Regions from separate parts of the Homo sapiens genome. Here region 2 is linked to region 1. Evidence: fine-mapped expression QTL. A gene starts in region 1. The other region holds a variant in brackets. All regions are shown on one strand. Distances are from middle to middle.

Region 1 (5,384 bases):
AATCTGAAGACAACACTGGGAGCTGTTACAATGTTACCAGCAGGCAGAAAAGTCTTTTTCTGCAAGAACTCACAATATAAGCAGAGAACAGGGCAACCACACATTAAAAGATTTATCTAAGGTATATTAATAAAAGAGCATTGACAGTGTTATTAATATGCATTATGAATGTCAAATTCAATAACATATTCAGATGAAAACTATCAAGGCCTGGACTTGCTGAAGGCACTCTTTTCACCTTTGCTTTTGGTATGCAGGTAGATATTGCAGAATGTGCTCTTTATAGCGGTTAACAAGATGCTGTAATGGAAAAAGGATTACAGGGCACAGCTAAGTTCCCATCTAAAGTTGGTGCCACAGCAAAGCAATCAATCAACAAAGTGAAGACACCAACCCGCAGAATGGGAAAAAAAATACTCAAACACTACCCATCTGACAAGGGGCTAACAACCAGAATATATAAGGAGCTCAAACAACTGTAGAGGAAAAAATCTAATAATATGATTTAAAAATGATCAAAATATCTGAATAGACATTTCTCAGAACAAGACATACAAATGGCAAACTGGTATGTGAGAAGTGCTCAACATCATCGATCATCAGAGAAAGGCAAATCAAAACTACAAAGAGATATGACTTCACCCCAGTTAAAATGGCTTTTATCCCAAAACAGGCAATAACAAATGCTGGTGAGGATGTGAAGAAAAGGACACCCTCATACACTGCTGGTGGGAATGTAAATTAGTACAGCCACTATGGAGAACAGTTTGGAGGTTCCTCAAAAGAGAAAAATAGGACTGCCATATGATCCAGCAATCCCACTGCTGAGCATATACCCCAAAGAATGGAAATCAGTCTATCGGAGAGGTATCTGCATGCCCATGTATATTGCAGCATGTTTCACAATATCCAAGATTAAGAAACAACCTAAATGTCCATCAACAGACAAGTGGATAAAGAAATGTGGTACAGGTACAGAATAGAATTCAGCCAAAGGAAAGAATGAAATCCTGTCATTTGCAACAATATGGATGGAACTGGAGGTCCTTATGTTAAGTGAAATAAACCAGGCACAGAAAGACAAACTTCATATGTTCCTACTTATTTGTGGGAACTAAAAATGGAAACAATTGAACTCATTGAGATGGAAAGTAAAAGAATGGTTACCAGAAGCTGGGAAGGGTAGTGGGAGAAAAGGGGGAGTGTGGGGATGGTTAATGCATACAAAAAAGAGAGAGAATGTATAAGATCTAGTATTTGATAGCACAACAGAGTGACTATAGTCAATAATAATTTAATTGTACATTTAAAAATAACTAAAAGGGTATAATTGGATTGCTTGTAACACAAAGAATAAATGCTTGAGGTGATGGAAATCCCACTTACCTTGATGTGATCATTACATATTAGATGCCTATATCAAAATATATCATGTACCCCATAAACTCTATGGGGTATATTACTATATTACTATGTAATCACAGCAATTAAAAATTAAAATAAAAATAATAATAGAGTTGGTGCCAGTAAAAAGATGGGAGAATGAATTGTAAATGAAGGATTGGTTCTGGAGCCTCAGGACGCAGAGAGACAGAGCTCCAATACTGCCTCCTGGCAGTTCTTGAAAACATTCTACCCACAATATTGTGGCCATTATTTTAGAGTATGGGAACCCTTTTGTTTCCTAACAAAAAGTCATAAGTTTTACATTTCTTTGCCATGATGTGAAAGGAACTGATGATTTCTTTCTCAGAACTCTGTGGCCCTTGTGAGTGAAACAGAGAGGACAGGCCACGCTTCAACATGAATGCAGCAGCATCCTTTGGAAACAATCTCAAGACCTAACTGAAAACCCATGTTTCTAATTTAAGTATGAGACAGTAATTACTCATACAGCCAGAGAGGATTCCAAGTCCCTGCCTATTTGCCGCACTATCTAAAAACAATCAACTCATCTTTCAAATCTGACCAAACTACAAATGGTATGAGAACTCCATCGTTTAATAAGGATGTTCATTTTGGCACTTAGCAGCTTACGCGTGGCTCACAGATGGCATCTGTCTCGTTTTGCGTAATCCAATCATCCTGCACTACTGCGTCTCACACTTAGTCTCCAGGAGTAATTGAAAAGCTCACGGTGACAATTGTGTCTTCTTCCAGATGTCATCGCTATAAGGAGTGGGGCTTTCATCACCTCCTTGACGTAGGATGTGTACATGGCTCTCCAGGTCAGAGTTGCTCCAAGCAAGGTAAAGAGAAATTACTTCTTTGCATTGCCTTTCAGTTGCTGCCTAGCACTGGTGTAAATGAATATGTTCTATAAATGGCCTCTCTGTCAGTGGGCAACTTGTTTCACTTTTGGCTGGGTACCATACAGAAAACATTCTGCTGCACGGCTTGCATCTTGTGGTAATAGGGCAATATAAAGGCACCCATGCCCAAGAAAGGATTCTAAAACATGTAAATAGTCGCTGTTTAGAAGGCACCATTTTATTCGGAGGTAAGCTCTCTGGTATTAGCACCTGCACGTCTGCTATCGTTTTCTGAAATCATGACAGTTTGTTCTCAATCTTTTTTTCTTTTTTTTTTTTGCAGGGAGTGGCTTTTATTTTTGTAACTTCTAAAGGGTGCGCAAAATTTTAAATGCAAAGTGTTGAAACATTTCAAGCTGTAGGTTTGTTAGTTTCTTTTTCCCCCGAGGCTAGTGTTAATAGTTGTGTTTTACTTCAGTGCAAAAATACCCCTTTAAAAAAAAATCAAACAATCGAAAACAAGGAAATATGCAAAGCCTCAAAGCAGCTGTGTAAATTCATACAGGCTTTAGGCCTATAATGAGCCAGACTTAAGGGAATGATAGTGGAAAATCAGATTTTTACTTAAAAATTAAATTACAATTATGAGTGAGTGCTACATTCATTTTAGTAAAATATCAGCACCGTGTGTATTTCCTCAAGCTTTTTCTTTACACTACCATCATCACCACATATGTCATCAGTGAGAAATGTTGAGCATGACAACAGCTAAGAAAAATTTTCAAGGTCAGTAAAACATTATTTCAGGAAAAATATTTTTAAAAAGCTTATTTTTAAGGGGTTATTAAACTTCGTAATTTATGTATAGATTTGGGATTGAACTAGCAATAATAACTTCTGCTGAAGAGATAAAAATTAGAAGATAAAATCCTTTCTCTTAAGTAGCTTACACAAAGAATGGGGGCTCTATATTTAGTCGGGGCTTACACAGACCAGACAGACAGACACACACACACACACACACACACACACACACACACACACACACGCATTGCAGAGAAAATATCCAGATAGTTGCTGCAGTTCCTCACTATCTTAGAATCATCTGAGCTTCAAGTGTAGAATTAGAGCCTTAGAACATTAGAAGAATAGTGAATATGTTCAAAATAGATAGGTTGTTGACTATCTGAATTCTCATGATACATCCCTATAAGTTATGAGTTAACTTTTCTTTTAAGTGCTTGTTCACTGTCAATATTATCAGCACAAGAATTACTGATATGCTTATAAATTAATAGTAATAGCAAAAGTGACCTTCATCTAGAGATAACTCGAATACTCAACAAACATTTATTGAGTGCATGCAATGTGCCAGGCATTGGGCTAATTAAATCCCCCCTATCTGTACACTTTAAATGACAGAAAAGCTGACTCAAGGGAAAGAGTCATGGCCAAAGGCCATTTAATTAATTTGCTGTCTGGGAAAATAGCACAAGAACTGGGAAGAAAGCCCAAGTATGAGGACTGCTAAACTGTTCAGAATACAATGTATTCTACTCCAGTAGACGGCATGTTTCCTAACTATGTTAAACTAATGTAAACTTTCCTCTGTAAAACAAATGTTGTAAAAATCTCAGAAGCACAACACATTCCTGCATATCCTCAGAGTTGTTCACCTGAACTGGAGAATTTCATTCATTCAGGCAATTTCAGAGGGAACTACTTACCAGTAGGACGGAGCCTTTGCTGTGATTCTACAAGTGAGAGAGTCATATCTCATGATTTCTCCAGGAATTGTCCAAAGAACTACAATGCAGTCTTTCCTATGGGGAGAAGTAAGAGAGAAAGTATTATCTATTGGGAACATACAGTACTTAATGTTAAGAATTGTATACATGTTCAGAATACAAATCCCTTATGAAACTTTACCTGTAGATGAGTAGAACAAAACTCAGAAAGTAACCAGCCAATGTCACACACTTGTCAGTGATGAACTGGGGGAGAAACTCCAGTGGATCTGACTTAGAGTCCACATACTTTATTAATAGACTATGGTTCCGGCCAGGCGTGGTGGCTCATGCCTGTAATCCCAGCACTTTAGGAGGCCAAACCGGACGATCACTTTAGGTCAGGAGTTCGATACCAGCCTGGTAAACATGGTGAAACCCCATCTCTACTAAAAATACAAAAATTAGCTGGGTGTGGTGGTGCACACCTGTAGTCCCAGCTACTCAGGGAGGCTGAGGCAAGAGAATTCCTTGAAGCCGGGAGGCAGAGGTTACAGTGAGCTGAGATTGTGTCACTGTACTCCAGCCTGGGTGACAGAGCAAGACTCTGTTTCAAAAAAAAAAAAGACTATGGTTCCTACTATAGTGGTCTTGTCTTCCATTATTTCTTTCCTTCCTTCCATGATTATTATTCAAAATATATTTATTGAATACCTATGAAAGCCTGACCAATATTTTGGGGGCTGAAGAATTAAATGTGGTCAAATCAGTGTCTGTCTTTTAGAGACTGGAGAAAGAAATGTATACCTCCAAAAGTAGGTATGCTACAATACAAATTTGATGAGATCTATAAGACAAATATAATATTATGGAAGCAATTAAAATAAGATAGAGATTGATTCTGTCCTGCAGTGAGGGGTGGAGTGAGAAGATGATATATGAGCCAGACCTAGAGAATATAGCTACTTGCTCTGTAAAGAAGAGTGAAGCTACTGTAGGCAATGGGAACATTCTGCTTTGCAAAATCACACAAGGGCTTCCAGTTTCCATAGACTAAATGGAGAAGGCTATTACAGAAGGACTAGGCCTAGATTTCACAAAAGAATTCTCCTAAGTCTTCAAAGATCATATACTCCCAATGCTACTTAAATCATTTGAGTATAGAAAAACAAGAAAAGCCACAAGAAAGTTTTATGAAACAAGAAATATGTTGTCACCTAAACCATATAAATATAGTACAAAAAATAAACTATAGATCAATCTCACTTATGAATACAGAAAAATCTAAACATATTAGCAAACAGAACCCAAGAACTCGTCATAAAAATAAAACATCATGACCAAGTGACATTTATTCCAAAAATGTACGGATGGTTCAATATTAGGTAATCTACTAACATAATTT
Region 2 (5,384 bases), 23 kb after region 1:
CCTAAATGATATTGCCTAGGTTTTCTTCTAGGGTTTTTATGGTGTTAGGTCTTACATTTAAGTCTTTATCCATCTTGAGTTAATTTTTGTTTATGGTGTAGGGAAGCCATCCAGTTTCAGTTTTCTGCATATGGCTAGCCAGTTTTCCCAGCACCATTTATTAAATAGGGAATCCTTTCCCCATTTCTTGTTTTTGTCAGGTTTGTCAAAGATCACATGGTTGTAGATGTGTGGTGTTATTCTTGAGGCCTCTGTTCTGTTCCATTGGTCTATATATCTGTTTTGGTATCAGTACCATGCTGTTTTGGTTACTGTAGCTGTGTAGCATAGTTTGAAGTCAGGTAGCGTGATGCCTCCAGCTTTGTTCTTTTTGCTTAGGATTGTCTTGGCTATGTGGGCTCTTTTTTGGTTCCATATGAACTTTAGAGTAGTTTTTTCCAATTCTGTGAAGAAAGTCATTGGTAGCTTGATGGGGATGGCATTGAATCTATAAATTACTTTGGGCAGTATGGCCATTTTCACGATACTGATTCTTCCTATTCATGAGCATGGAATGTTCTTCCATTTGTTTGTGTCCTCTTTTATTTCATTGAGCAGTGGTTTGTAGTTCTCCTTGAAGAGGTCCTTCACATTCCTTGTAAGTTAGATTCCTAGGTATTTTATTATCTTTGTAGCAATTGTGAATGGGAGTTCACTCATGTTTTGGCTCTCTGTTTGTCTATTATTTGTGTATAGGAATGCTTGTGATTTTTCCATGTTGATTTTGTATCCTGAGACTTTGCTGAAGTTGCTTATCAGCTTAAGGAGACTTTGGGCTGAGACAATGGGGTTTTCTAAATATACAATCATGTCATCTGCAAACAGAGATAATTTGACTTCCTCTTTTCCTAATTGAATACGCTTTATTTCTTTCTCTTGCCTGATTGCCCTGGCCAGAACTTCCAACATTATGTTGAATAGGAGTGCTGAGAGAGGGCATCCTTTTCTTGTGCCAGTTTTCAAAGGGAATGCTTCCAGTTTTTGCCCATTCAGTATGACATTGGCTGTGGGTTTGTCATAAATAGCTCTTTTTATTTTGAGACGCGTTCCATCAATACCTAGTTTATTGAGAGTTTTTAGCATGAAGGGCTATTGAATTTTGTTGAAGGCCTTTTCTGCATCTATTGAGACAATCATGTGGTTTTTGTCATTGGTTCTGTTTACATGATGGATTACGTTTATTGATTTGAATATGTTGAACCAGCCTTGCATCCCAGGGATGAAGCCAGCTTGTTCATGGTGGATAAACTTTTTTATGTGCTGCTGGATTCGGTTTGACAGTATTTTACTGAGGATTTTTGCGTTGATGTTCATCAGAAATATTGGCTTGAAGTTCTCCTTTTCTGTTGTGTCTCTACCAGGCTTTGGTATCAGGATGATGCTAGCCTCATGAAATGAGTTAGGGAGGATTCTCTCTTTTCTATTGATTGGAATACTTTCAGAAGGAATGGTACCAGCTCCTCTTTGTACCTCTGGTAGAATTTGGCTATGAATCCATCTGGTCATGGACTTTTTTTGGTTGATAGGCCATTAATTATTTCCTCTATTTCAGAACCTGTTATTGGTCTATTCAGAGATTCAGCTTCTTCCTGATTTAGTCTTGGGAGGGTGTATGTGTCCAGGAATTTATCCATTTCTTCTAGATTTTCTAGTTTATTTGCACAGAGGTGTTTATAATATTCTCTGATGGTAGTTTGTATTTCTGTGGGATCGGTGGTGATATCCCCCTTATCATTTTTTATTGCATCTATTTGATTCTTCTCTCTTTTCTTCTTTATTAGTCTTGCTAGTGGTCTATTTTGTTGATCTTCTCAAAAAACCAGCTCCTGGATTCACTGATTTTTTTGAAGGGTTTTTGTGTCTCCATCTCCTTCAGTTCTGCTCTGATCTTGGTTATTTCTTGCCTTCTGCTAGCTTTTGAATTTTTTTGCTCTTGCTTCTCTATTGTTAATTGTGATGTTAGGGTGTCAATTTTAGCTCTTTCCTGCTTTCTCTTGTGGGCATTTAGTGCTATAAATTTCCCTCTACATACTGCTTTAAATGTGTCCCAGAGATTCTGATACATTGTGTCTTTGTTCTCATTGGTTTCAAAGAACATCTTTATTTCTGCCTTCATTTTGTTATGTACCCA[G/C]TAGTCATTCAGGAGCAGGTTGTTCAGTTTCCATGTAGTTGTGAGGTTTTGAGTGAGTTTCTTAATCCTGAGTTCTAATTTGATTGCACTGTGATCTGAGAGATCAGTCTGAGAGACAGTTTGTTGTGATTTCTGTTCTTTTACATTTGCTGAGGAGTGTTTTACTACCAATTATGTGGTGAATTTTAGAGTAAGTGCGATGTGGTGCTGAGAAGAATGTATATTCCATTGATTTGGGGTGTAGAATTCGGTAGATGTCTATTAGGTCTGCCTGGTGCAGAGCTGAGTTCAAATCCTGGATATCCTTGTTAACCTTCTGTCTTGTTGATCTGTCTAATATTGACAGTGGGGTGTTAAAGTCTACCATTATTATTGTGTGGGAGTCTAAGTCTCTTTGTAGGTCCCTAAGGACTTGCTTTATTAATCCGAATGCTCCTATATTGTGTGCATATATATTTAGGATGGTTAGCTCTTCTTGTTGAATTGATCCCTTTAGCATTATGTAGTGGCCTTCTTTGTCTCTTTTGATCTTTGTTGGTTTAAAGTCTGTTGTATCAGAGACTAAGATTGTAACCCGCTTTTTTTGCTTTCCATTTGCTTGGTAGATCTTCCTCCATCCCTTTATTTTGAGCCTATGTGCGTCTTTGCACATGAGATGGGTCTCTTGAATACAGCACACTGATGGATCTTGACTCTTTATCCAATTTGCCAGTCTGTATATTTTAATTGGGGCATTTAGCCCATTTACATTTAAGGTTAATACTGTTATGTTTGAATTTAATCCTGTCATTATTATGTTAGCTGGTTATTTTGCCTGTTAATTGATGCAGTTTCTTCATAGCGTCTAAAGTCTTTACCATTTGGCATGTTTTTGCAGTGGCTAGTACCTGTTGTTCCTTTCCATGTTTAGTGCTTCCTTCAGTACCTCTTGTAAGGCAGGCCTGGTGGTGACAAAATCTCTCAGCATTTGCTTCTCTGTAAAGGATTTTAATTCTCCTTCACTTATGAAGCTTAGTTTGACTGGATATGAAATTCTGGGTTGAAAATTCTTTTCTTTAAGAATGTTGAATATTGGCCCCCACTCTTTTCTGGTTTGTAGGGTTTCTGCCAAGAGATCCACTGTTAGTCTGATGGGCTTCCCTTTGTGGGTAACCCAACCTTTCTCTCTGGCTGCCCTTAACATTTTTTCCCTCATTTCAACCTTGGCGAATCTGACAATTATATGTCTTCGAATTGCTCTTCTCGAAGAGTATCTTTGTGGTGTCTCTCTATTTTCTGAATTTGAATGTTGGCCTGCCTTGCTAGGTTAGGGAAGTTCTCCTGGATGATATCCTGAAGAGTGTTTTCTAACTTGGTTCCATTCTCCTATCACTTTCAGGTACACCCACCAAATGTATATTTGGTCTTTTCACACAGTCCTATATTTCTTGGAGGCTTTGTTCATTTCTTTTCACTCTTTTTTCTCTAATCTTGTCTTCTCACTTTATTTCATTAATTTGATCTTCAGTCACTGATATCCTTTCTTCCACTTGATGGAATTACCTATTAAAGCTTATGCATGCATCACAAAGTTCTCATTCCATGGTTTTCAGCTCCATCAGGTCATTTAACATCATCTCCACACTGTTTATTCTAGTTAGCCATTCATCTAATCTTTTTTCAAGGTTTTTAGCTTCCTTGCAATGGGTTAGAAGATGCTCCTTTATCTCAGAGAAGTTTGTTATTACCAAGTAGGTTTCTGAAGCCTACTTCTGTCAACTCGTCAAACTCATTCTCCACCCAGTTTTGTTCCCTCACTGGCGAGGAGCTGTGATCCTTTGGAGGAGAAGAGGTGCTCTGTTTTTTAAAATTTTCAGCTTTTCTTCTCTGGTTTCTCCCCATCTTTGTGGTTTTATCTACCTTTGGTCTTTGATGTTGGTGACCTACAGATGGGGTTTTGAGGTGGATGTCCTTTTTGTTGATCTTGTTGCTATTTTTTTCTGTTTGTTAGTTTTCCCTCTAACAGTCAGACCCCTCAGCTGCAGATCTGTTGGGGTTTGCTGGAGGTCCACTCCAGACCCTGTTTGCCTAGGTATCACCAGTGGAGGCTGCAGAACAGCAAATATTGCTGCCTGATCCTTCCTCTGGAAGCTTCGTCCCAGAGGGGCACCTGCCTGTTTGAGGTGTCTGTCGGCCCCTACTGGGAGGTGTTTCCCAGTCAGGCTACACGGGGGTCAGGGACTCATTTGAGGAGGCAGTCTGTCTGTTCTCGGAGCTCGAATGCCATGCTGAGAGAACAACTGCTCTCTTCAGAGCTGTCAGACGGGACGTTTAAATCTGCAGAAGCTGACTGCTGCCTTTTGTTCTACTATGCCCTACCCCAAGAGGTAGAATCTATAGAGGCAGTAGGCCTTGCTGAGCTGTGGTGTGCTCCACCCAGTTCGTGCTTCCAGGCCTCTTTGTTTACACTGTGAGCTACTCAAGCCTCAGCAATGCAGACGCCCATCTCCACATCAAGATGCAGCGTCGCAGGTCTATCTCAGACTGCTGCACTAGCAGTGAGCAAGGCTCCGTGGGTGTGGGACCTGCCGAACCAGGCATGGGAGGGTATCTCCTGGTCTGACGGTTGCTAAGACTATGGGAATAGTGCAGTATTTTGTCAGGAGTGCACTGTTTCTCCACATACAGTCTGTCATGGCTTCCCTTAGCTAGGAAAGGGAAATCGCCCCACCCCTTGTGCTTCCCGGGTGAGGCAACACCCTGCCCTGCTTCAGCTTGCCCTCCATGGGCTGCACCCACTGTCCAACCAGTCCCAATGAGATGAACCAGGTACCTTAATTGGAAATGCAGAAATCACCCATCTTCTGCGTCGATCTCACTGGGAGCTGCAAACCAGAGCTGTTCCTATTCAGCCATCTTGGAAGTGACTCCATAACTCTTTTTTTTTTTTTTTAAGAGACAGAGATTCACTCTGTCACCCAGTCTCGAGTGCAGTGCAGTGGCATGATCATAGCTCATTGTAACTTCAAACTCCTGCACTCAAGAGATCCTCCCATCTCCACCTCCTGAGTAGCTAGGACTATGGAGCACACTATTATGCCAGGCTAAGTTTTTTTCAATTTCTTTTAGAGACAGAGTCTTGCTATATTGCCCAGTGTGGCCTTGAACTCCTAGCTTCAAGTGATGCTCCCACCTCGGCCTCCCAAAGTGCTGGAATTACAGGTGTGAACCACAG

The links. PIP is the estimated chance that this variant, and not a neighbour inherited with it, causes the effect.
Region 2: its variant is the best candidate, but not a certain one, in a credible set for the expression of TMEM244 in whole blood (TOPMed, PIP 0.54).

Annotation. Positions count from the first base shown.
Region 1 is chr6:129,858,021-129,863,404 of GRCh38, reverse strand. TMEM244 (transmembrane protein 244) reads left to right here and starts at 2,090. Exons shown (of 5, transcript NM_001010876.2): 1 at 2,090-2,249. The coding sequence starts at 2,217. LOC105377999 (a long non-coding RNA gene) reads right to left here. Exons shown (of 8, transcript XR_942986.3): 2 at 3,980-4,075.
Region 2 is chr6:129,835,123-129,840,506 of GRCh38, reverse strand. All of the region lies in intron 3 of TMEM244 (transmembrane protein 244), which reads left to right. Among named protein-coding and RNA genes, the nearest start is that of TMEM244, 24 kb to the left of the region's middle. The variant G/C (reference allele first, on the strand shown) is at 2,171.